3 linked regions of the Homo sapiens genome follow. The protein of the gene in region 3 purifies or fractionates together with the protein of the main gene of each other region. This does not show direct contact. Each region holds a gene or a part of one and is shown on either strand. Other genes may lie near its edges.

Region 1 (7,449 bases), on a different chromosome or scaffold from region 3:
CACAGGGTGGGCACCCAGGGCATGGTCAGTGGCTGGGACAGTGGCAGAGGAGGAGGGGGGCTGGCTAAGAGCCAGATTGGGCCAGGGAAGGAGCTGAGACTAAAACCCCTGAGGTCTTGTTAAGTGGGTCTTACGCTCAGGCCAGGGACGATCACATAATCAGTTCCAGTCGGAGCTGGAACCAAACCCAGCGTCCTGAGGGTGCACTCCCTGTGGGGTCCCCAGTACCCAGCATGGCCAGGAGAGGGAGTGTGAAGAAGCCATGCGGAAGGTCGGCGCTGCAGAGGCGCTTACATCCAAACGTGGCAAAGTCCACATGTGGATGGTGTCATCACTTAGAGGGGGACAACAGACCTCTCCAACAGGGCAGGACATCACAGATGCCCATCTCGGCTCAGTACGAGAACTCTCCGACCTGAGCAGTGTTCCAGCACAGAGCAGCTGCCTCAAGGAGAGACCCGTCCCTACACGTGTGAGCAGAGGCAAATCGCAGGAAAGACGGTGCAAACGCCACTCAGGATCAGGTGTGCAGGGGGCCCACCAACCTCTCCCAGGCAGCCCAGGCCTCAAAGCTGCCTCTACCAGAAGCTTCTGCATTAGGGGCAAACAGAGCCCCAAGGCCTTCTGGAAGTGGATTCCAGGACTATCAACTGGTCCTAAGGGTCAAGGTCAGACACCCATGTACCAGAAAATATTTGGAGGAAGAATAGAAATGAGATGGCCAGGCGTGGTGGCTCATGCCTGTAATCCCAGCACTTTGGGAGGCCGAGGTGGGCGAATCATCTGAGGTCGGAAGTTCGAGACCAGTCTGAACAACATGGAGAAATCCCGTCTCTACTAAAACTACAATGTTAGCCAGGCGTGGTGGCGCATGCCTGTAATCCCAGCTACTCAGGAGGCTGAGGCAGGAGAATCACTTGAACCTGGGAGGCAAGGTTGCAGTGAGCTGAGATCGCACCATTGCACTCCAGCCTGGGCAACAAGAGTGAAACTCTGTCTCAAAAAAAAGAATAGAAATGAGGACAAGAGATGAACAATTATGGTGCTGGCCAACCTCTAGTAGGGCAGCAGGGTGGGGCAAAGCACAGAGCACCCAGAGCAGGCCCGCTGCGGACCCCGCAAAGCCACCATGGGCACAATGAGGGGGCAAAGCTGCAATCCTAGGACATCTGCCACATGCTCCCTTGTGTAACATCCCTATGATGAAATACTAAAAGGATCCATGTTGTATGGCTGGCTACAAAACCAGGTTATCAAAAAAAGAAACTGAGTGTGCACACACCCGCACCTCCACACACCCGTGTATGAACGTGATACCCACATAGGGTCTGGCAGGCTCACGCTGAGCTGTGACCTGGGCCCTCTGCACGGGGCCCTGGGATGCGGCAATGGGGCAGGGGTGGAGGTCATACCTTACAGAGTTTTTGCTGTGAGCACATATAAATCATACATTATTTCTGGAATTAAGAAACAGTAGGGTCAGACGTGGTGGCTCATGCCCGTAATCCCAGCACTTTGGGAGGTCGAGGCGGGCGGATCACCTGAGGTCGAAGTTCGAGACCAGCCTGACCAACATGGAGAAACCCCATCTCTACTAAAAATACAAAATTAGCTGGGCATGGTGTCGCATGCCTATAATCCCAGCTACCTGGGAGGCTGAGGCAGAAGAATCACTTGAACCTGGGAAGTGGAGGTTGCGGTGAGTCGAGATTGTGCCATTGCACTCCAGCCTGGGCAACAAGAGCGAAAGTCCATCTCAACAACAACAAAAAGGAACGACAGTAACAGAGCCAGGCATAGTGGTGCATGCACATGGTCCCAGCTACTCAGAAGGCTTGTGCCCAGGAGTTTGAGGTTGCAGAAAGCAGCCTGGGTGACAGAGCGAGACCTTGTTCTAAAAAAACACAAACAAAAACAAAACAACCCACCAATAACAATAACAAGGGAAAATACCGTTAAAAAACAGGTTTCAAAATGTTATTATTTCATTTGGGTAAGAAAAAAACATGTGTGCCTGCTTACATAAGTATAAAACATATCACAGGGCCAGGCACGGTGGCTCACGCCTGTAATTCGAGCACTTTGAGAGGCCAAGTCGGGTGGATCACCTGAGGTCAGGAGTTCGAGACCAGCCTGGCCAACATGTTGAAACCCTGACTCTACTAAAAATACAAAAAAAAAAAAAATTAGCAGGGCGTGGTGGTGGGCACCTGTAATCCTAGCTACTTGGGAAGCTGAGGCAGGAGAACCGCTTGAACCTGGGAGGCAGAGGTTGCAGTGAGCCGAGATCACACCATTGCACTATAGCCTGGGCAACGAGAGCAAAACTCCATCTCAAAAACAAACAAACAAACAAAAAATCATATCGCAAGGTTAAGTGTGGTCTCATCTGGGAGGTGGTGATTTACTTTTTTTTGCTTTTTATTTTTTATTTTTTTGAAACAGAGTTTCGCTCTTGTCACCCAGGCTGGAGTGCAATGGTGTGATCTTGGCTCACTGCAACCTCTGCCTCCCAGGTTCAAGCGATTCTCCTGCCTCAGCCTCTCAAGTAGCTGGGATTACAGGCATCTGCCACCACGCCCGGCTAATTTTCATATTGATTGATTGATTGATTGATTGAGACAGCGTCTTGCTCTGTAGCCCAGGCTGGAGTGCAGTGGCACGATCTCGGCTCACTGCAAGCTCCACCTCCCAGGTTCACGCCATTCTCCTGCTTCAGCCTCTGGAGTAGCTGGGATTACAGGCATCTGCCACCACGCCCGGCTAATTTTCATATTGATTGATTGATTGATTGATTGAGACAGCGTCTTGCTCTGTAGCCCAGGCTGGAGTGCAGTGACACGATCTCGGCTCACTGCAAGCTCCACCTCCCAGGTTCACGCCATTCTCCTGCTTCAGCCTCTGGAGTAGCTGGGACTACAGGTGCCTGCCACCACGCCCAGCTAATTTTTTTTTTTTTTTTTTGAGACGGAGTCTTGCTGTCACCCAGGCTGGAGTGCAGTGGCGCAATCTCGGCTCACTGCAAGCTCCGCCTCCCAGGTTCACGTCATTCTCCTGCCTCAGCCTCGCCAGCGGCTGGGACTACAGGTGCCTGCCACCACGCCTGGCTAATTTTTTGTATTTTTAGTAGAGATAGGGTTTCACCGTGTTACCGGGATGGTCTCAATCTCCTGACCTTGTGATCCGCCTGTCTCAGCCTCCCAAAGTGCTGGGATTACAGGTGTGAGCCCAGCCACGCCCGGCCAATTTTTTGTATTTTTAGTAGAGACAGAGTTTCACCGTGTTAGCCAGGATGGTCTCGATCTCCTGACCTCATGATCTGCCCTCCTCGGCCTCCCAAAGTGCTGAGATTACAGGTGTGAGCCACCACGCCTGGCCTAATTTTCGTATTGTTAGTAGAGATGGGGTTTCACCATGTCGGCCAGGCTGGTCTTGAACTCCTGACCTCAGGTGATCCACCGGCCTCGGCCTCCCAAAGTGCTGGGATTACAGGCATGAGCCACCGTGCCTGGCCAATAATTTACTTTTCATTTTGTATTTTTTTGCTTCTCTCTGGTTGTCAACTTCTCTGTGAGCTCCTGGGACAATTACAGACACTTGCCCCAACAGTTACAGGAAACGGCCAGCTCCGTGCCATGGAAGCCTGAGATTCCTGTGAAGCCTGAGTCAGAGGCACCAGGCACAAGCCCAGGGTGGAGACTTGGGCCCTGGCAGATGATGTTCTCTGCTGTGACTCAGTTTTCCCTGCCACACCCCTCCTGTGCCTGCTGGGGGTGGCCAGAAATAGAGCAAGGGAGGGGCTCTGAAGAGGGCAAGTGACCGATGGAAGCAGCCTTTACTGGGGGCAAGGCAAAAGAGGGAGAGGATGGTTTTAAATCATAATCAGAGCTTTGAAAAAAAGGAGTCAGGCCGGGCACCACGGCTCATGCCTGTAATCCCAACACTTTGGGAGGTGGAGGTGCGGGGATCACTAGAGCCCAGGAGTTTGAGACCAGCCTGGGCAACAGGACGAAACCCCACCTCTACAAAAAATACAAAAATTAGGCTGGGCGCGGTGGCTCACGCCTGTAATCGCAGCTACTCAGGGGGCTGAGGTAGGAGAATCACTTGAGCCTGGGGAGGCAGAGGTTGCAGTGAGCGGAGATCGCACCACTGCACTCCAGCCTGGGACACAGGGCAAGACTCTGTCTCAAAAAAAAAAAAGTATGAACTCACTAATGAAAGAAAGTAAGAATCAAACAGGGCAGAGGAAGCCCACACAGCTCAGAGCACCCAGGGAATCTGCACAGATGTGAAAGGTGTCCAGGTCCAGTAGTACCAGGCTGTGGGGAATGACTCTGGGGGAGGGGGAGGAGGGAGGAGACCTTATCTTCAAATCTCTCACCCCCTGCATTCCTACCCCATAAATGGGGGATTGAACCTAAAAGTTCTGAGGGGTTCCTTCCATTCTGACCTTGCATGAGGCAGTGAGTGTGGTTCAGAGAAGGGGCTCTGTGGACAGAGAGACCAGGGTTTAAATTCCTCTGCTACTTCCTGGTGGCCTTAGCAAGAGACATCACCTTGCTTTCTCCATCTGTAAAATGGGTGGACAACAGTATCTACTTCAGAGCAGGACCATGCCCTGAGCACAGAGTAGGTGCTGGGCAATGCTGTGATGCTGACGAGGCAGCGGCGGCGGCCGGCACTCACCTCCCGGTCGATGAGCCGCAGCGGGTACTTGATGTCCGGGCTCTCGAGGGTGATGGCTGGCGTGGAGCGCTGGAACAGCTTCATGAGCAGACTGTACAGGAACCAGACTGGGAAGAGCACCATATGGCCCAACTGAAACGACAGGACCCGCGGGGTCAGTGCAGGAGCCTGCCTTTCCCCAAACACACCGGCTTGTCCACACTACCAGGCCTCTGCTCACGCTGCCCCCTCTGCCAGGAGCACCCTCTCCCCACCACCCTCATCCAGAAAGCTTCATCATCCATTTTGGTGCCCACTAGGAGAAGCTATAAAGACCAGCCTCATGACACCTGTCACTGAGCATTACCTGGGCTTCTATGCTCAGTACCATGAGAAAAAGCTCCATTTCCTCTGAAGAGCCAGGACCAAAAAGAGCTGTGGGTCTAAGCACATATCCTTTTTCACTTTGGCTACTAGGAAGCTCAGAGTAAAATTAATCTTGAGCATAATGTATTTGTGCTCCTTCCTTCTCTTGCTTCCTTCAGTCAACTTCCCTGGTCTTATTAAGTGATGTCAAGTTCTAGCTTGATTTAGACAAACAGACAAATAATAACCCCAACTCAGAATCTATCTGAAAGGCCTACACTGACCAAATGGCTCTATGGCACCTTTAAATCCAGTCCCTTGGGGCCACTGGGATTGATGCTCTCCTCTTTGCTCTCCCACAGAGCACACTAGAACAAGCCAGTGAAGCTGAGTAAACTGAGCCACTTCCCCCAAATGACATCCATGAGTGTCCCTGAGCCCTGGGGTTCTGCCATCAGGTGTAAGGGGAAGCGAAGCACTGAGCCAGGCACTGGGAAGGTCACTGGCTGTGTGACCCCGAGAAAGTCCCTTCCCCTCTCAACCTGAGTGGACCAGGTGATCTGCAAGGCCCCCAGAGCTGAGACCCTACAGCTCAGATCACCAAAGCCAACAGCCTCTGGGATCCCAGGGCCACGTCGGGTACCACACGGGCACGGCTCTCGCAGCAACCCCGTGTGGTAGGCACTGTCATCACCACCATTTCGCAGATGAGGAAACAGCCCAGAAAGGCAAAGCGACTCACCCAGTCACACAGCTGGCAGGTGAGGAGCTGACCCAGAGTCCACCCATCCCTTATACCACGCTGGGATACCTCATGACCAAGTGGACCCTGCCACACGGCCCTGAGGGGCTGTTCCTCCCCAGCCCCTGCCCCCGACATCTCAGTCTCCTGAAGGCCCTAAAAGGGGGCTGGGCATAGTGGCTCCAGCCTGTAATCCCAACACTCTGAGAGGCGGAGGCAGGTGAACAGTTTGAGTCCACGAGTTCAAGACCAGCCTGGGCAACAGGGTGAAACTCCATCTCTACAAAAAATATAAAAAGTTAGCTGGTTGTAGGCCCGGTGCAGTGGCTCACGCCTATAATCCCAGCAATTTGGGAGGCCAAGGTGGGTGGATCACCTGAGGTCAGGAGTTCGAGACCAGCCTGGCCAACAGGGTAAAACCCCATCTCTACTAAAAATACAAAAATTAGCCGGGCGTGGTGGCAGGTGCCTGTAATCCCAGCTACTTGAGAGGGTGAGGCAGGAGAATCGCTTGAACCTGGGAGGCGGAGGTTGCAGTGAGCCAAGATCATGCCATTGCACTCCAGCCTGGGCAACAAGAGTGAAACTCCATCTCAAAAAAAAAAAAAAAAAAAAAAAGTTAGCTGGTTGCAGTGTCACACGCCCGTGGTCCCAGCTACTCAGATGGCAGAGGCAGAAGATTGCTTGAGCCCAGTAGTTCGCGACCAGCCTGGGCAACATAGCAAAACTCTGTCTCTGTTGAAAAAAAAAAAAAAAAAGACCCTAAAAGTTGGTTAGAAAACCTGAATCCCTGGGCGGGCACAGTGGCGCATGCCTGTAATCCCAGCTACTCAGGAGGCTGAGGCAGAAGGTTGCCTGTGGAGGAGGTTGCAGTGAGCCAAGATCACACCACCACACTCCAGCCTGGGAGACAGAGCAAGACTCCATAAAAAAAAAAAAAAAAAAAAAAGGCCGGGCGCGGTGGCTCACGCCTGTAATCCCAGCACTTTGGGAGGCTGAGGCGGGGGGATCATCTGAGGTCAGGAGTTCAAGACCAGCCTGGCTAACATCGTGAAACCCAGTTTCTACTAAAAATACAAAAAATTAGCTGGATGTGGTGGCGCATGCCTGGAATCCCAGCTACTCAGGAAACTGAGGCAGGAGAAATGCTTGAAGCTAGGAGATGGAGGTTGCAGTGAGCCGAGATCGTGCCATTGCACTCCAGCTTGGGCAACAAGAGTGAAACTCCATCTCAAAAAAAAAAAAAGGCCAGGCGCTGTAGCTCACACTTGTAATCTGAGCACTTTGGGAGCCCAAGGCAGGCAGATTACTTGAGGTCAGAAGTTCGAGACCAGCCTGGCCAACATGGTGAAACCCCGTCTCTACCAAAAATACAAAAATTAGCTGGGTGTGGTGGCAGGCTACCCCAGCTACTCAGGAAGCTGGAGCAGGAGAATCATCTGAACCTGGGAGGCGGAGGTAGCAGTGAGCTGAGATCGTGCCACTGCACTCCAGCCTGGGTGACAGAGCGAGACTCTGTCTCAAAAAAAAAAAAAGTGGGGGGGGACCGGGCACGGTGGCTCACGCCTGTAATCCCAGCACTTTGGGAGGCCGAGGCAGGTGAATCACCTGAGGTCAGGAGTTGGAGACCAGCCTGGACAACATGGAAAAACCGCGTCTCTACCAAAAATACA
Region 2 (7,449 bases), on a different chromosome or scaffold from region 3:
TGGGCGTCCAGGCAGCTCCAGCAGAGCATCTGGGCCAGCCAGGGTGGAGTCCAGCCCTGACTCTGCCCTCCAACCCCAGAGACTCAGAGATCAGAGAGTGAGGTCACCCCTTCCAAGCCAGCTAGCCCTGGACAGGCAATGTGCCGCTGAGCAGCGGGGAGGCTTATGTGGCTTCTGGGATCCCTGCACCAGCATCAGAGGCTCCTCTGAAGCATGGGGGGGTGGACGGCAGGCAGATCCCTGCCCTGGGGACAGTCAGGCCGGTGCACACAAGTGGCTGCTGCTGGAGAGGCAGCATCCGTCCCTTGGCCTGGGCTTCTTCAGAAGCAAAAGCCAAAAAATCAGCCGTCTTCCCCACACCCAGCCTCCACCCAGAGTGGAAAGCACACACACGTGATAGGTGCCGTGTTACATGGGGCCGAGGCTACACGGGAATGTGGCTGTGCACCGACCGGGAGCACACGTGGGGGTTAGTGGTGGTTTAAATGGCCGCGGAGCAGCAGCCGGACCGGCAGGGTCTCGGCGGGTTGGTGAGTCCTGTTTTAGTGGGGAGGGTCTCGCGGCTCTCAGGCAGGGTACCTGGATCGGCTTAATTATCAGGCTGGATGTAGATCTGGCGCTGGGTCAGCACTTGAGAGAGCTCCCTCTGCAACTGCTTAAACTTTTGGTTGTCAGGGATAGCATCAATAGATCTACAGAGAGTGTTCAAGATGAGTGGAGTGGGAGGGAAGAGAACGACGAGAAGCCAGGAACGCAGGGGGCCACAGCTGAGGAGGAAATTCAGGGAGACCCACGAGGCGGAAGGGGGGATGCCGTGGCGGCTCTGGGGTGTGGAGTGGTATCGCCGCTGCAGAGGTCCACGCTGGCGGTGGTCGTGGTATTCAGGGGCTCGCCACCACCACCCGCAGGCTCTTCGGCTTCTCTCCCCCACTTCCCAGCCACTGCCTGGGGACTGTGCAGGTTGGCTGGGCGGGAAAGTGTGTTTGGTGTATCGGGCAGTGGCTGCCAGTGGCAGGCCTAACGCCAGGGACCACTGGGCTCTAACCCTGTCACAGGTCACGAAGACCAAGCCTCCCCCAGGTGGGCAGGGGATCAGAAGACAAGGGTCCAAAGAGGACTCCTCCTCTGTTTTAAAACTGTAAAGCAGGTGACTGAAATCTGTCGCCCACCCCAGTCCACGAGCTGGGGCAGCCCCGGGACTGCAGCCTGCCTCTCCTCTGGGCTGGGCTGTGAGAGCTACACCACGGCAGTGGGTGAGAGGGCTGGCCGCTAAAGGCATAGCACAGCCCGACTCACACGGTGCTGCTGGACTGCAGAGCGTGTTCTAGATTCATCATCTCAGCCGACCGTGCCTCCTCGACTGGACAAGGGCCTCTGCGAGGAGTGCCAGAGGCCATGCAGCTCGGGATGACAGAGCTTAGGGGAGATCCCGGCCTCCTGACTCTCCTGACTCCAAGGCCAGTGCTCCCTCCACAGCCGTTTACTGCCCCCAGCTGGGCTCTGGCCTCATGTCAGAGGCCTGCCTCCTGCTCTGTCCGCCGTGGACCTGGAGGGTCCAGAGAGCGCCCGGCTTTTGTTTGGGCTGACACTGCAGAGCTGAGGGCACGAGGTGGGAAGGATGGTGCAGGACACTGGCCACTGGCAGCAGAGCCCTGGCAGAGGACGTCAGAGAGGCTGGGGCCCCCTGAGAACGCCCAGGCTGAGGGCCCTGCCTGCATGTGGCGTCAGGGAGGCTGGGGGCCTGAGAAGGCCCGGACTGAGGGCCCTGCCTGCACGTTGCGCTCTGCTGTCTCGGAGAGCAGGCCAGCCAGAGGCAGCCGGGCTGCCCGGAATGTGGTGTCATGGCTCCCCTAGGCCCAGGCTGGAGGGTGGGGAGATTTTTGAGCGGGGACTGACAAACTGCAGGGCTGAGGAGGCTCCGGGGGCAAGGGCACCAATGGCTGTTAGGGTGAACATGCCCCAGAAAACAAATGGTGCAGATAGGGACCGACAGCTGCTACGGAGAGTGCAGATGACACATCAGGACTTTACTTTCCAAAATCAACATAATGATCATCCCAGAAGAGGGGCACTGCAGCCTACCAATGAGGACACCGAGGCCCAAGACCACACAGCTAGTAACTGGCAGAGCCAGGGTTCAAATCCCTCTGTCTGCTTCTAAAGCTTGTGCTTTCTGGTACATTACCTCAGCCCATTGACGATATCCTTTGTTTTTCCAAAGTAGATCTCGTTCAGCGTACTTCTGATTTTATTTTCCATGTCCTGGAAGGGAGGTCGGTCAGCGCAGTGGCAAAAGGTCAGGAACCCTGAGGCCCACGCCCTCCCTCCACCTGCCAGCCCTGCAGTCCCCAGTGTGGCCACTGGAGGGTGGCACACGCCTGCTCTGGGGCATCAGTGAGCGCGCTCCAGGCTGCCAAGACCCCACCTGCCATCTGTGCTCCCGGCACCTTCCCATCCACAGTCCACAGGCAGGGAGGAAGCCAGTACCCAGGGATTGGCGGCCAGCTCTGCCCATGCCTGGGAGCTGCTCTAAACCACATCACCACCCCTTGGGCTCCCCACTAATTTTGTGAACAATTCTGTGAAACCCGAGAGCACCTCCCTGCCTTCCCAAACAACGTGGTGACAGGAGGGCCAAGGCAGCCGCAACTGAAGCCACACCAGGGCCCACTGGCATTCCTGGGATCTGCTTCCTCTCCCAGCGCAGGGCCCTGTTCACACCCAGGCGATCAGGGGAGACAAGACCTAGTGCGCCCCAGAGCCAGCGCCTGAGCAGTCTTCTGGGAGCCCAGGTCTGGGGGTGGAGCAGGAGGTGGCCCTGAAGCTGGAGCCTGCTGGCATCCAAATCAGAGGCTCCAAAAATATGAGGCCAGGGCAAAATCCAAGAAGCGCTCTGCCGGCTGCGGTGGAGCTGAGAGAAAGCAGCAGAGAAGGAGGCCAGCACAGCGGCTCCGGGGCTGCAGTGTCACTGCTGTGGGTCACTGCAGGAGCCAGCCAGAGCCCAGGTCACTCACCTCTACCAGGCGCCCGATGTTGGCTATGTGTGGGGAGCAGTCACTCACAGTTTCATCCTTCTCCATCTGCAAAAGACAGAAACATTCCAAGTCAGAGAAAGCCAGAGATTTCTGAGAACGGCAGACAGCCCACCCCACCTCCACGGTCTGCAAAGAGCCTACTGTTCCCACCGTGGAGCCAGCTGCAGGTATGACAAGGCCAGTTTTGCAGCCTGGGAACTGAAGCACAAACCGACTTCAGTTTCAGACCATAAAGAGCCCAGAGGGCAGAAGCCCAGAGTCCCACTTCCAAGGGAGAAGATTTTGCTGCTGCCCATGGTAGAGCAGGCAGATGCCCAGAGCCACAGCAGCAGCCCTTGGCAGGCACCAGCTCACCCGAGCCAACTGGAGAAGACTCACTCGGTTTGTCTTCAGGCCTCTACTGGCAGGCCCAGGCCCACGCTGGGCCATCCACCCCAGGTTCAGGGCCTGACACTGCAGGGGAAGCTTCTGTGCTGCTGCTGCGCCCTGGCGCTCCCAAATGGTGGCTTTGGGGTGCCATCTGCTGCAGTCTCGCAGGGAGGGACAGACAACCTCTGACGGAGACTTCAGGCCAGAGGGATTCAGTGGCTCACCCTAGTCATGCAGGTGGCAATGGCAGAGCCTGGGTCAAACCCTTCCTCGCACCAGGGCCTGTTCGTTCTACTCTGCGAGGAGAGTTTGAGCAAGAGAGTCTCAATATAGACTCTGAGGTTATGAGGGGGGCAGCAGCACTCAAGCCCCATCTCCTCTTCCCAAGCCCAGGAAGAGCTGGCTCTGACCCAATCATCTCAACTCGGAGGAGGGAGGAAATGGAGGCAGGTTAGGGTAGAAGGAATTCGGCACTTTCCCCCGAATTTTTTCTTATCTGAAGCCTTATTTCCCTGACAAGAATATAAATTCTTTCAGGAGAGATGTGCCTGCCTCATAACGCACAGGGTACCTGGAAGAGTGCTAGGAACATAAATGCTCAACGTTACTACACTGAAAACAGGAATACGCAGCTACGATGACTAATGTTGTTGAAATAAAATGTGGAAGCTGAAATAAATAATCAAGAAAGAGGAAGAAAAGAACAGCATCAGAAAGGGTAGAGTAGAAACCATGCAAGAAGTGGCCATCAAATTATAATACAAAAATGCAGTACTCTAAGGCTAAGCATTTATTGTTGAGATTCTAAATCTGCTTAGACATTATTTATAATTTTTGAAGCTTTATTAAAATAAAATAAAATTTGTGAGAGAAGCTAAAAAAAAAAAAAAAAAAAAAAAAAAGAAAGGGTAGAGTTCAAAATGAGACCAGGCCCACAGAAGAAAAACCAGCAAAAGGTGGGTTCCTCTCTTTGGAACCAGGAGAACAGGGTGGAGTCTGGGGGGAGATACTGTCTCAGAGGGTACGGGCTCTGTTGCTTCTCACCTATTTCTACATCTCCTCATCAGGGAGACTGACTTTCAGGCTGTGAAAGGTGGAACCAACCTGGTTAAGAGCGGGGTGAGCAGAGGGCAGGAGAGAACCAAGCCACTTTAAACGACCAGGCTTCCAGGGTCGGGCAAAACCGACCTGTGATTGAAATCCTTGACACTGGGGGCGGCAGCACTGACCCGACTTTTGTCTTTTTTTTTTTTTTTTTTTTTTTGAGACGGAGTTTCGCTCTTGTCGCCCAGGCTGGAGTGCAATGGTGCAATCTTGGCTCACTGCAACCTCTGCCTCCTGGGTTCAAGTGATTCTCCTGCCTCAGCCTCCCCAGTAGCTGGGATTACAGGTGCCCACCACCACGTCCGGCTTTTTTTTATTTTTATTTTTATTTTTTATTTTTAGTAGAGACAGGGTTTTGCCATGTTGGCCAGGCTGGTCTTGAACTTCTGACCTCAGGTGATCCACCTGCCTCAGCCTCCCGAAGTGCTGGGATTACAAGTATGAGCCACTGCACCTGGCCGACCCAACTTTTGTCAAAAAAGGAAGAATGGCCTCTGCAAGGAAACGCTAGCTCGAAACTGATCCAGACAACAATTTTTGATGGGATCGTTAAAATCATCTGCTGGCACATTTTAAACTCAGAGATCATGAGGAGCCAGCCAGGCTCACTGTGAACAAGCCCTGCACGAGAGCACTTCTTTTCCTGTTTTGGTGGGGATGCTGGGCTGGAAGAAAACACAACTACTTAAATAGGGTCGCATCCTTCTGGCAAGTTCCCATCTACCATCCTGCACCTGTGGCTGAGAGGAAGGGCAGGATGGAGCCTCTGCCGATAGGGGTAGGGACCTGGCCACATTTCCACAGCCCCCCACCCACTCCCCTCCACACCTGGTCAGGGTCAGCTCGCTGGCAACACCGACCCACCAAAAATAGAACCATTTGTGCACTGCATACACTATGTGGCACCCTGTAGCAGTCTCTGCCTGCCCTTGGTCAACTTGTTTGTCCAGGACTTAAGTAAAGGCCCAGCTGAGAGAACGACCAGCTTCCTATCGACAGTGTCAAGGGTTGAGATGGTCACAGGGTTAATACGGAACCCGGAAACCTGGGCTAGCTACAGAACGAGAGCAGCAACTTGGAATGGAGCCAGGCGGCAGCCACCTTTTTCCATCTCAGCTTCCTAGGAACCCTGTTTTAAACCCAAGGAAACCGAAGCTTAAAGAAGCAAGAATCATACAGCACTGTTAGATTCCGACGCCTTTGCTCCTCCTACTTCACCACGCCAGTTAAATGTACCAGGGCAAATGCAAGCCAGATATTTAGGCTCAAGGGTGCATTTCATGCAGTACAAAATGGGGAACTGCTGACTTGCAAACAGTTCCTATGAAGAGACTTGTGGTTTTTAGATAATTTCAAGTTTGACAAGGATGAGATGTCGCTACTAGGAAAGCTTTTGTGCAACTTTAAGGTGCACAGATGACACTATTCCTTGTGCCCAGATAAGGGGCAGCATTCCCACCCCATCGCGTGATGAAGACACTGCAGCTGCCAGTTTCCATTGCTTGCTTGGGAAGGCAGTGGTTACCCTCTGTTCTGTCCTGGCCCAGCTACATCTGCAGGGCTGGATTCAGTTTAGGGCACTTTTTTTTTTTTAATTTTCTTTTAAAAGACAAGGAGGTCTTGCTATGTTGCCCAGGCTAGACAGGAACTCCTGCAATCCTCCCACACAGCTGTAACTACAGGTGTGTGCCACTGTACCCTGCTAAGGCACTGGGTTTTAAAAGCCTTGAATGAGTTAGCATTCATCTGCTTAAAAGGTCTGAACACCCTGACACCAAGAAATGGGAGAGAACTAGGGCTATCCAGGCCTGGCGGTGGTGGGTGGGGAGGGATGTGTGTGTGCTAGGGGAGACACAAGAGATTCTGGCAGGGCTCTGAAGGCCTGCTGTCTGCCAGGGGAACAGACCCAACCTATGTCGCTGTAGATGGCAGAGGGGGGACCGAGCAGTGAGAGAACATCACGGCTCACTGGGCTGGACTCGGTCTGTTCTGATAGAGCTGTCCCTGACAGGCATCTGCTCACAAAGCAATGTGGTCTGGGAGACCGACGGGTCTGAGAAAACGGGTGGCATCTGACAAGGGGGGGGGGCGGTCTAGGTGAGGGCAACAGTCCAGAACCTGCTGCCTCCCAAGTCATAACAGTAAATATCTGCAGAAAAAAGACATCTGGTTCTGGCAAGGCTGTTTTACTGAGGACTAGTGGAAAAGAGGGAGAGAAATGCTAGAAAGACCGGCTTCTCTGCTCCCATCTGTCTTGGCATGCTCTGGCAAGTCATCCTGAGGAATCTCGACCCTCAGACCCCAGGGGGTCTCCATAAAACAGGAGTAGTGAGAGTGCCCATGAGCTTGAGAGTCACAGTTCTCATTTCAGGTCTAATAAACACACCAACCTCGGCAGCACTGGAGCGTCTGCTGGAACATCATCTTTATCTGCCACTAGCAAAACCCTGGTGCCAAGACGACGGGGTGGGCTGTCTGCTCAACAGGAGCTGGGGAGCACCCTCAGGAGGGAGGGGGCTCCATCCACCCAGCTTCAAAAAGAACTTTTGCATGCTGGCCCCCGGGGACTGTGTGTTCTCCCAGACGTGAAGGTGGTTACTGTGCCTAGGCTCAGGGCTGGGTGGAGTCAGCTCGGCAGGCAGGGAAGCCTGGGGGTTGGATGGAAATGAATGAGGTCCTTCCAGCAAATCAGAGTCTCTCCTCCTCCCCGGCTCCATGTGGACGGCAGATTCCCGGCCACCCTAGGGAAGGGATGAGGGTTTTGAGCTCACTGTGGGCCCCATTTTAAATGGGCACCAACAGCCCAAAGAGAGGCCGCGGCCATCGGCAAAGGTCCTGGGTCACCTGGGCAAGTCCAGTCACATCAGCAATTTGGCCTCTTGGTTACCATCTTTGTGTTTCAGAATCAAGAGCCATCTTAAAACAAACAGGCGAAACCCCT
Region 3 (7,449 bases):
TGGGAGAGAGGGAGAAAGAAAGAAAGAAAGAAAACATCAGTGTGGATAAAAATGTACAGACATTTGTCATTTCATTTATTCAACAACTTTTTCATTCCTTTATTGTTTCATCCAGCGCCCACTTATTGTGCATATTCTCTGTGCTAGACACTGTCATGGCACTGGAGAAATGGCCATCAACAAAACAGACCAATGGTCCTCCCCCATGGAGCTTTTATTCTGGTGGGGGACAACAAGCATTTCTAAGTAAATTATATCATATGGTAGACAGTGATAAACTCTTGAGTATGTTAGGGAATGACAAGGAGAAAACTAAAGAGGAGTAGGAAGTGTCATGTGTGTGCATGTGTGTATGGGACAATGTAGAGAGGAGGTCACAGAGGACCTCACTTAGAAGGTGGCATTTGAGTAAAGACATATTGGATGAGAGGAATAGAGCCATGCAGACATCTAGGGGAAGGAAGGTTCCAGGCAGAGGACACAGTAAGCTCAAAGGCCTTGCCTATGGGAGTAAGCCTTGTGGGAAGGGTGCCTTAACATGGATCATGAACTGCTCACCAGATGACATGGAGAGAAGACGCAGGATATGGTGCAGATGCAGGTTCCTGGAGCTGGTGGAAGTTATCTTTGGGCTGACATTAAAAAACCCAGTCACCAGCTGAGCGGGAGAGCAGTCAGCATGGTTGCATGCTTTCCTCCAGCCATTGTCAGCTGTGTGGAGACAAGCACAGCCTGACAGAGAGGCAGATTGAGCCAGGGCTGTGGTTCAGCCAAAGGAGTTGGAAGAAATGCAAAAGAGCTTTGGGCTTGGAAATGTATGGAATGACTGACCCTGGGTTGAAGACAGGTAATTAGAGAAATGGAGACTTGAGGGGGTTAGAGATAGTGGAGAGGCAGGAGGATCAATGGATTGAAAGGTAGTGAGGTTGCAGGGCTGTAAGATCAGTACATTAGCAGAAGAGATTCGGACAGGAGGTGGTAGTTGGAGAAAGATGTTTGAATGTGTGATTGTGGATCAGCTGCCAGCATTTTAGGGTATGAGAATCAGCAGCTAAGATGAGGAGGAGAACAAGATCATTGAAAAAGAGGAGGCTGAGGCACCAAGGACCAGGTCCCAAAAGGATCGTCAATGTGGATCCTGCAGTTACCAGGAATTATGACAAGAATAATGCTGCAGAGAGTGACAGGGAGGAAGGAGCTCAGCTATTCAAATGAGAGGGAGTAACCAGGGGTTGGTAGGCAGACACAGTTGGAAGTGGTCAGAGGCCCTGTCTGAGGACAGGAGAGTCAAAGCTCAATGCTTTAGGAGGAGGCAGGGAACATGATCTGAAAGTCACATGATGAGCAAGGAAGACACCTACTCCACCTATGAACCAAGTGATACAGACAAGCTAAGAGAGAGAACAGCCCCCACTCAAGAGGACCACAGGGACTGCAGCATCAGGGGAGAGCCAGGTTTCTGGCAAAGCAAGAAGATGAAGAGAAGAAAATAGTCACAGAAGAGGTTGAAGACATGGAGGGGGGTTGTTGATGATGATATTAAGTTGTAAGGAGTTCTTACAAAAGAATTCAAAGAAATGAAGTCAGCACATGTTAAAAACAATCTATCAAGTACAAATTTAGGTCTCTTATCAGATAAGGTATTATTATTCTAATTTTATGGGTGAGAAAACTGAGACACATGAGTTTAAGCAACTTGCCGAGGACACCTCACTAATAATGTCAGAGATGAGATGATTAGGCCACGACTCCTGAGCCTGCACACTCAACCACGCACACACTGGCTCCCAGCAGTCAGCCTGCAATGCTTCCTACTTGCCAATTCCTTCTGGCCATGCTTCAATGCTTGAGAAAATAGACTAATTATTATATTCATATTCTTTTTTTTTTTTTTTGAGATGGAGTCTCGCACTGTCACTCAGGCTGGAGTGCAGTGGTGAGATCTCAGCTCACTGCAACTTCTGCCTCCCGGATTCAAGCAATTCTCCTGCCTCAGCCTCCCGAGTACCTGAGATTAAAGGCGCCTGCCACCACGCCCAGCTAATTTTTTTTTGTGTGTGTGTATTTTTAATAGAGACGGGGTTTCACCATGTTGATCAGGCTGGTCTCGAACTCCTGACCTTGTGATCTGCCCACCTCGGCCTCCTAAAGTGCTGGGATTACAGGTGTAAGCCACCGCCCCCGGCCTGTATTCATATTCTTTTTCAAACATGAAAGAACTTATTCAAGTTCCTATTGCCATGGGGCTAGAGGCCAAGAATGAAAAGGGTTATCACCATAGAAGGCGGTGTGGGTGGAGGTGGTAGTAAGTATTCTCTACCAATGCTACCATTGCTCAGGGCCCCACATCTGGTTGTGCAGCTCCATGCGATGCCTGTGGCTAAGGGGTGCAAAGGGACAGGGAACCAGCCAAAGTTCTGCTCGCTGAGCTGGAGAGCCTGGCTCAGGGCTGCATCTGGAGAAGTGGCCACCTCTTATCCTCACACAATGGAGGCATCTGCCTGCCCCGTCCTGAACCCACAGGACTGCATCACCACAGAGGAGGTGTCTTTTTCTTTTTTTTTTTCTTTGTTTTTTTTTTTTTTGAGATGGAGTCTCGCTCTGTCACCCAGGCTGGAGTGCAGTGGCGCGATCTTGGCTCACTGCAAGCTCCGCCTCCTGGGTTCACGCCATTCTCCTGCCTCAGCCTCCCGAGTAGCTGGGACTACAGGCGCCCGCCACTACGCCCGGCTAACTTTTTTGTATTTTTAGTAGAGACGGGGTTTCACCGTGGTCTCGATCTCCTGACCTCGTGATCCGCCCGCCTCGGCCTCCCAAAGTGCTGGGATTACAGGCGTGAGCCACTGCGCCCGGCCGAGGTGTCTTTTTCTAATTTGTTCACCCAGATGGGGCACCATAGGCCAGGGTCATTCTGAATGCACACATCATTTTTGGAACTCATTGTTAGAAATTATCTTCAACACCAGTGGGAATATAAAGTCAACCTTGAAGAATAACTTTGCTTTTAGAAAGAGTTAAAAGTCATTTGTTGGCCAGGCATGGTGGCTCACAGCTGTAATCCCAGCACTTTGGAAGGCCGAGGCGGGCGGATCACTTGAGGTCCGGAGTTTGAGACCAGCCCAGCCAACACGGTGAAAACCCGTCTCTACTAAAAATAAGAAAAATTAGCCATTCGTGGTGGCGAGTGCCTGTAATCCCAGCTACTCGGGAGGCTGAGGCAGGAGAATGGCTTGAACCTGGGAGGTGGAGGTTGCAGTGAGCTGAGATCTTGCCACTGCACTCCAGCCTGGGCAAGAGAGCGAGACTCCGTCTCAAAAAAAAAAAAAAAAAAAAGAAAAAGTCAGTTGTTGTCAAAAAATAACATGGGTGGTCAAGACCTGTGAAACTAAGAACTTTGTGATTCAGAAAATCATCATGGAAAGGGAGGTAATACTGGACAGAGGATCAGTCATTTCACATCTTGCAGAATATCTAAGACGATCCAGGATTTTTACAGAATGCCTGAAAATTACCATAGGATAAATACTGTGGTGGAAATGGGGGAAGCAATTCCAGTCCTCAGCCTGCCACAATCTATTTGTGTATCCTTCGGCAATTCATTGCTATCCCCTGGGGCTCGGCATCCTCTCCACTCACCAGTAAATGTGTGTGTGTGTGTGTGTGTGTGTGTGTGTGTGTGTGTGTGTGTGTGTGTGTGTGTGCATGTAAATGCATAGGGACAGTAGATGACCTATCTCCAGAGTACTCTCCAGCTCTGAGTTACTACTCTTTGATTAATTAAATCATTTTAAAGGATCAGAGCGTCAAACAGGCTTTATCATTTTAGGCTTGAGATTCTGACATTTATATTCCCCTGGGTTTCAGGATTTGTTGGAGTCTTCCTTTGCAGTCACTGAAACACATTTCAACCACAAGTTGTTTACTGTCCTAAGTATCATTTTATCTATTTTCCTTGAAAAAGCAAAGGTCTTGTTTTAATTCATCACTCAAGATACGGGACCAATGGTCAAAAAGACATTCCAAGCCTTCAAACGTTTTACCTGCTTGGGGTTCCGGTTTCTGACGTATCCGGTTTGGGAGAGATTCTCACCTCGTGGGTCATGTTCTCATTATCTCTGAATACACAACACACCTGAACTTTTCTACAGCTTCACTAATCCTGTAGGTGTTTAGCCTGCTGCATTATGTACCAGTCATCTTTCTGCTTTTTTTCTAAATATGGGCCTCTCAAATGCTCTTGCTCTTGACAATTGCTTTATCCTGTGTGCTTCTTTAAAAACATATCAAATGTTTCAATTGCAAATTGGTCTCATGCCACATAAAATTTGGTATTAATTCTAAATACTGAAGTTTCACTCCTTCGTCCCCTCTGTGACTACCACAGCAGAAAGCCTTGAAAATACTGTCATTGCAAGTGGAAGCATGATCCTACATGTGCCCCAGGAGACCCCTCTTCCTTTGTGTTTACAATTGCATAAGAAATTCTGAATCCACACTTTGCAGCCACATTTAGTGTCCTGACACAGAGAAAGGAGAGCCTGGTGGAGCTCTGTAGGATGGCTCAGGACTCCCTTTGCTCCATCCATTTGCACAGCTAGCTGCTATCAGAATTCACGGCAAGGGCGGTCACTGCCTTGGGGGATTTCTGATAGTGTCCCAACACCCTACTTGTAAAATGAAAAATAACTTTGTATTATCCTCTACCCTTTTCTCCAAGGTTGCATGTCTCCTATTTTGATCTGAACTGGCTGATCTGCAATGCCCTTAAGACTTAATATCAGATTTCTGCTTTAATAACAATAACGACATTAGATATACTGTTACAGAATATGTGTCTAATAACAAACAAATTAAAGCCCTCGAAATTCAGACCTTGCCTCATTTACTACCATGTCAAACATGATGGCTGTATAGTAAATACGGCAAAAAGCCCCTCAGGGAGATTGTTTACACATGGCTCTGTCTGCATTGGCAAAAAAAGCAAAAAAAAACAAAAAAAACCCAACTTCCTGTATCCTAATATTTAGTATATTCTTACATTTTAAATAACTGAGAAAGAAAAGAGTGAAGAACGTAATTATTGATTCTCAAGTTTAATTTTAGGGGAGCAATGAAAGGATATGCACAAATACCAATGGCCCTTTGTAAGAGTTTCAAATTACTACACTTTATAATCTTTGTTCCTGACACGTGTGTCACATGTCATCTGTTACACACTGTGGTCATTTCTCCCAGCTGAAACCCTGTTTGTGGATATAAAACTCTTCTACATGGTTTAGAGCAGATGGTGAAGCATATGCCTCTACTTCCTGGGTTGCCTTTCTTCTGATTTCCATATGATAGAGTCTGCCTTGAGGGCCTCCACAGCATTTAAAGAAATCAAAACGGTTAATGAAAGACACAGTTAGATAAACACTCCAAGATGATCTCAGGCTTAAAATATAGCCAAAGTAAATTCAAAGGAACACAGACAGTCCTTTTCTTCATTATGAGGCCACTCAACTCGCCTCCCGATCTCCAATGGAATAACAGATATACCTTCTTAACAAAAAAATGCCTGAGCACCAAGGTGTTCCTGCTCACCCGCCCTCCCTCCCCAGATGGTTTTAATTGCTCAAGGGCAGCACAGGGCCCCCAGAACTCACTTCAAAGGCCTCAAACCAGTTCTGCTTCCTGATGTGTTCTATGCATTCATGGCACTGCTTCTGGAAGTACTTTTTTTGCTTCTCATCCAACAAGCCAATTTGGTACAGGAATTCTGCATAGCCCCCTATAATCTGAGGACAAAAAAGACACACATCAATGTGACAAAGGGAGAGAAAGAGACCTTAAGGAAGCCCATTTGCTTGGTGAAATAATCCTTTGTAATTGTTAATATTGTGCTGGTTAGCCAAGTAGGATAATTACATGCACACACACATATACACCCCACAACACACACAACAGAACACAACACAATACAAACACACACACATTTGCACTGACAGCCAATGTAAGCTGACACAGTAAATTGATACGTTGAAACATTTGGTAAAAATTAGGAGATTTAAGTCATAAAGTCAACTGGTGTTTCCCTTATCAAAAGTTAGACCTCTAAGAGGAGCCTTCCATCTGATAAAAAGGCATTTAATCCCCCTAAGAGACAAAATAGAAAGTCAGAAGGAGAAACCTACTGATTCGGGATCAGAATATCCATCTCCAATAGCAATTCCGTTCAGGTTGATCTTCACCTCTCTCACAGGGTTGAGGGAATGGATGAGGTGTGCAATGGCTGGCACATATTTCCCTGCATAAGACTGAGAAGGACAGATGTTGAAATGGCCAATCACAAATGGATGCTAGTAAAATTAAATGTACTTAAGCTAATTAAAATAACAATGAAGGAGCAATCTTTCCACATGAGGTATACCATCTGTTTCTTAACCCCACATTATAGATTCCATAATAGCAAAAACCTCTGTCTTCCAATTCTTTTGTCGTCTCAAATAGCACCACATGACATGAACAGGTTCGATGCACAAAAAATCACAAGTGAACATGTAATAAGTGAACATTCTAATTTCCTTCCAAAATAAAATAACTTGGGAGAACACAATTCTGCCATGTGTTAGGCATCTCTTACCAGAAAGCTCTATTCAAAGATTAGAGGGAAAAAAATCTCAAGTTTAAAATTAAGATTTCAAAATCTGATAATGCTGCAAATTTTGAAATCAACATGTACTAAAGGAATAGGAGAAGCAGAAAAGGAAAATAATATTTATTGGCCACTAAAATTTTCACTTGAACTCATCTCTATTTCCAAACTTTTCCAGCACAAGGTCCTTTTTCAAGGTCAGAATATTTTGTAGATATATTTCCCCTAACAAACATGGTAACGGTTCTACTTTAAGACTGTGCTGGAAGAGCTACTATTGACTCAGCAGTATTTTTCAAATAATTTTGCATTTTGCATTCTTTCCATCAAAAGTTGCCTTCTTGATATCTCCACTTGTATGTCTAATATTAAACTGCACATGTTCAAAATAAAGCTCCCAATCCCCAACCCTGAGGCAGCCTCCCTTTCATCTCATGTTAATTCTGTTTCTCCCCTGCTCAGGCCAACAATCTTGGTGCCATTCGTTATATCTCTCTTTGTCTCGTATTCCACAGAAGTCAATCAGCCAAGCTTGTCAGCTCTACCTATTCTAACAAAATCTGTCCAGAGTCCAATGTCTTCTCACAACCCCTTCTCCATCACATCATCTCTGGCCTGGATGACTGCAGTAGACTCCTCATTGGCCTCCTTCTTTTGCCCTTATCCTTTAATGACTTCCCATCTTCCCAAAAGCAAAGGCATAAGGGCTGACATGATCTGCTCCCTTCTCTACCCTCAACCCCTGCCACCCTCTCGCTCATTCCTTTCCAGCCCATTGGGTTCCATGCTATTCCTTGCACATACCAGGCACATGT

What was found.
Region 1: the proteins of CPVL (region 3) and CYB5R3 purify together in Homo sapiens (affinity purification with mass spectrometry; 3 studies listed by BioGRID and IntAct, with this or other methods). This does not show direct contact.
Region 2: the proteins of CPVL (region 3) and CAPZB purify together in Homo sapiens (affinity purification with mass spectrometry; 3 studies listed by BioGRID and IntAct, with this or other methods). This does not show direct contact.

The regions. Positions count from the first base shown.
Region 1 is NC_000022.11:42,632,026-42,639,474, forward strand, and holds part of CYB5R3 (NADH-cytochrome b5 reductase 3), read right to left. Parts: intron 4,822-7,449; coding exon 4,690-4,821; intron 1-4,689. UniProt on the Homo sapiens protein: Catalyzes the reduction of two molecules of cytochrome b5 using NADH as the electron donor.
Region 2 is NC_000001.11:19,342,173-19,349,621, forward strand, and holds part of CAPZB (F-actin-capping protein subunit beta), read right to left. Parts: intron 3,081-7,449; coding exon 3,015-3,080; intron 2,263-3,014; coding exon 2,186-2,262; intron 693-2,185; coding exon of another isoform or gene 590-692; exon of another isoform or gene 580-589; intron 1-579. UniProt on the Homo sapiens protein: F-actin-capping proteins bind in a Ca(2+)-independent manner to the fast growing ends of actin filaments (barbed end) thereby blocking the exchange of subunits at these ends.
Region 3 is NC_000007.14:29,066,128-29,073,576, forward strand, and holds part of CPVL (probable serine carboxypeptidase CPVL isoform b precursor), read right to left. Parts: intron 6,339-7,449; coding exon of another isoform or gene 6,297-6,338; coding exon 6,174-6,296; intron 5,778-6,173; coding exon 5,646-5,777; intron 1-5,645. UniProt on the Homo sapiens protein: May be involved in the digestion of phagocytosed particles in the lysosome, participation in an inflammatory protease cascade, and trimming of peptides for antigen presentation.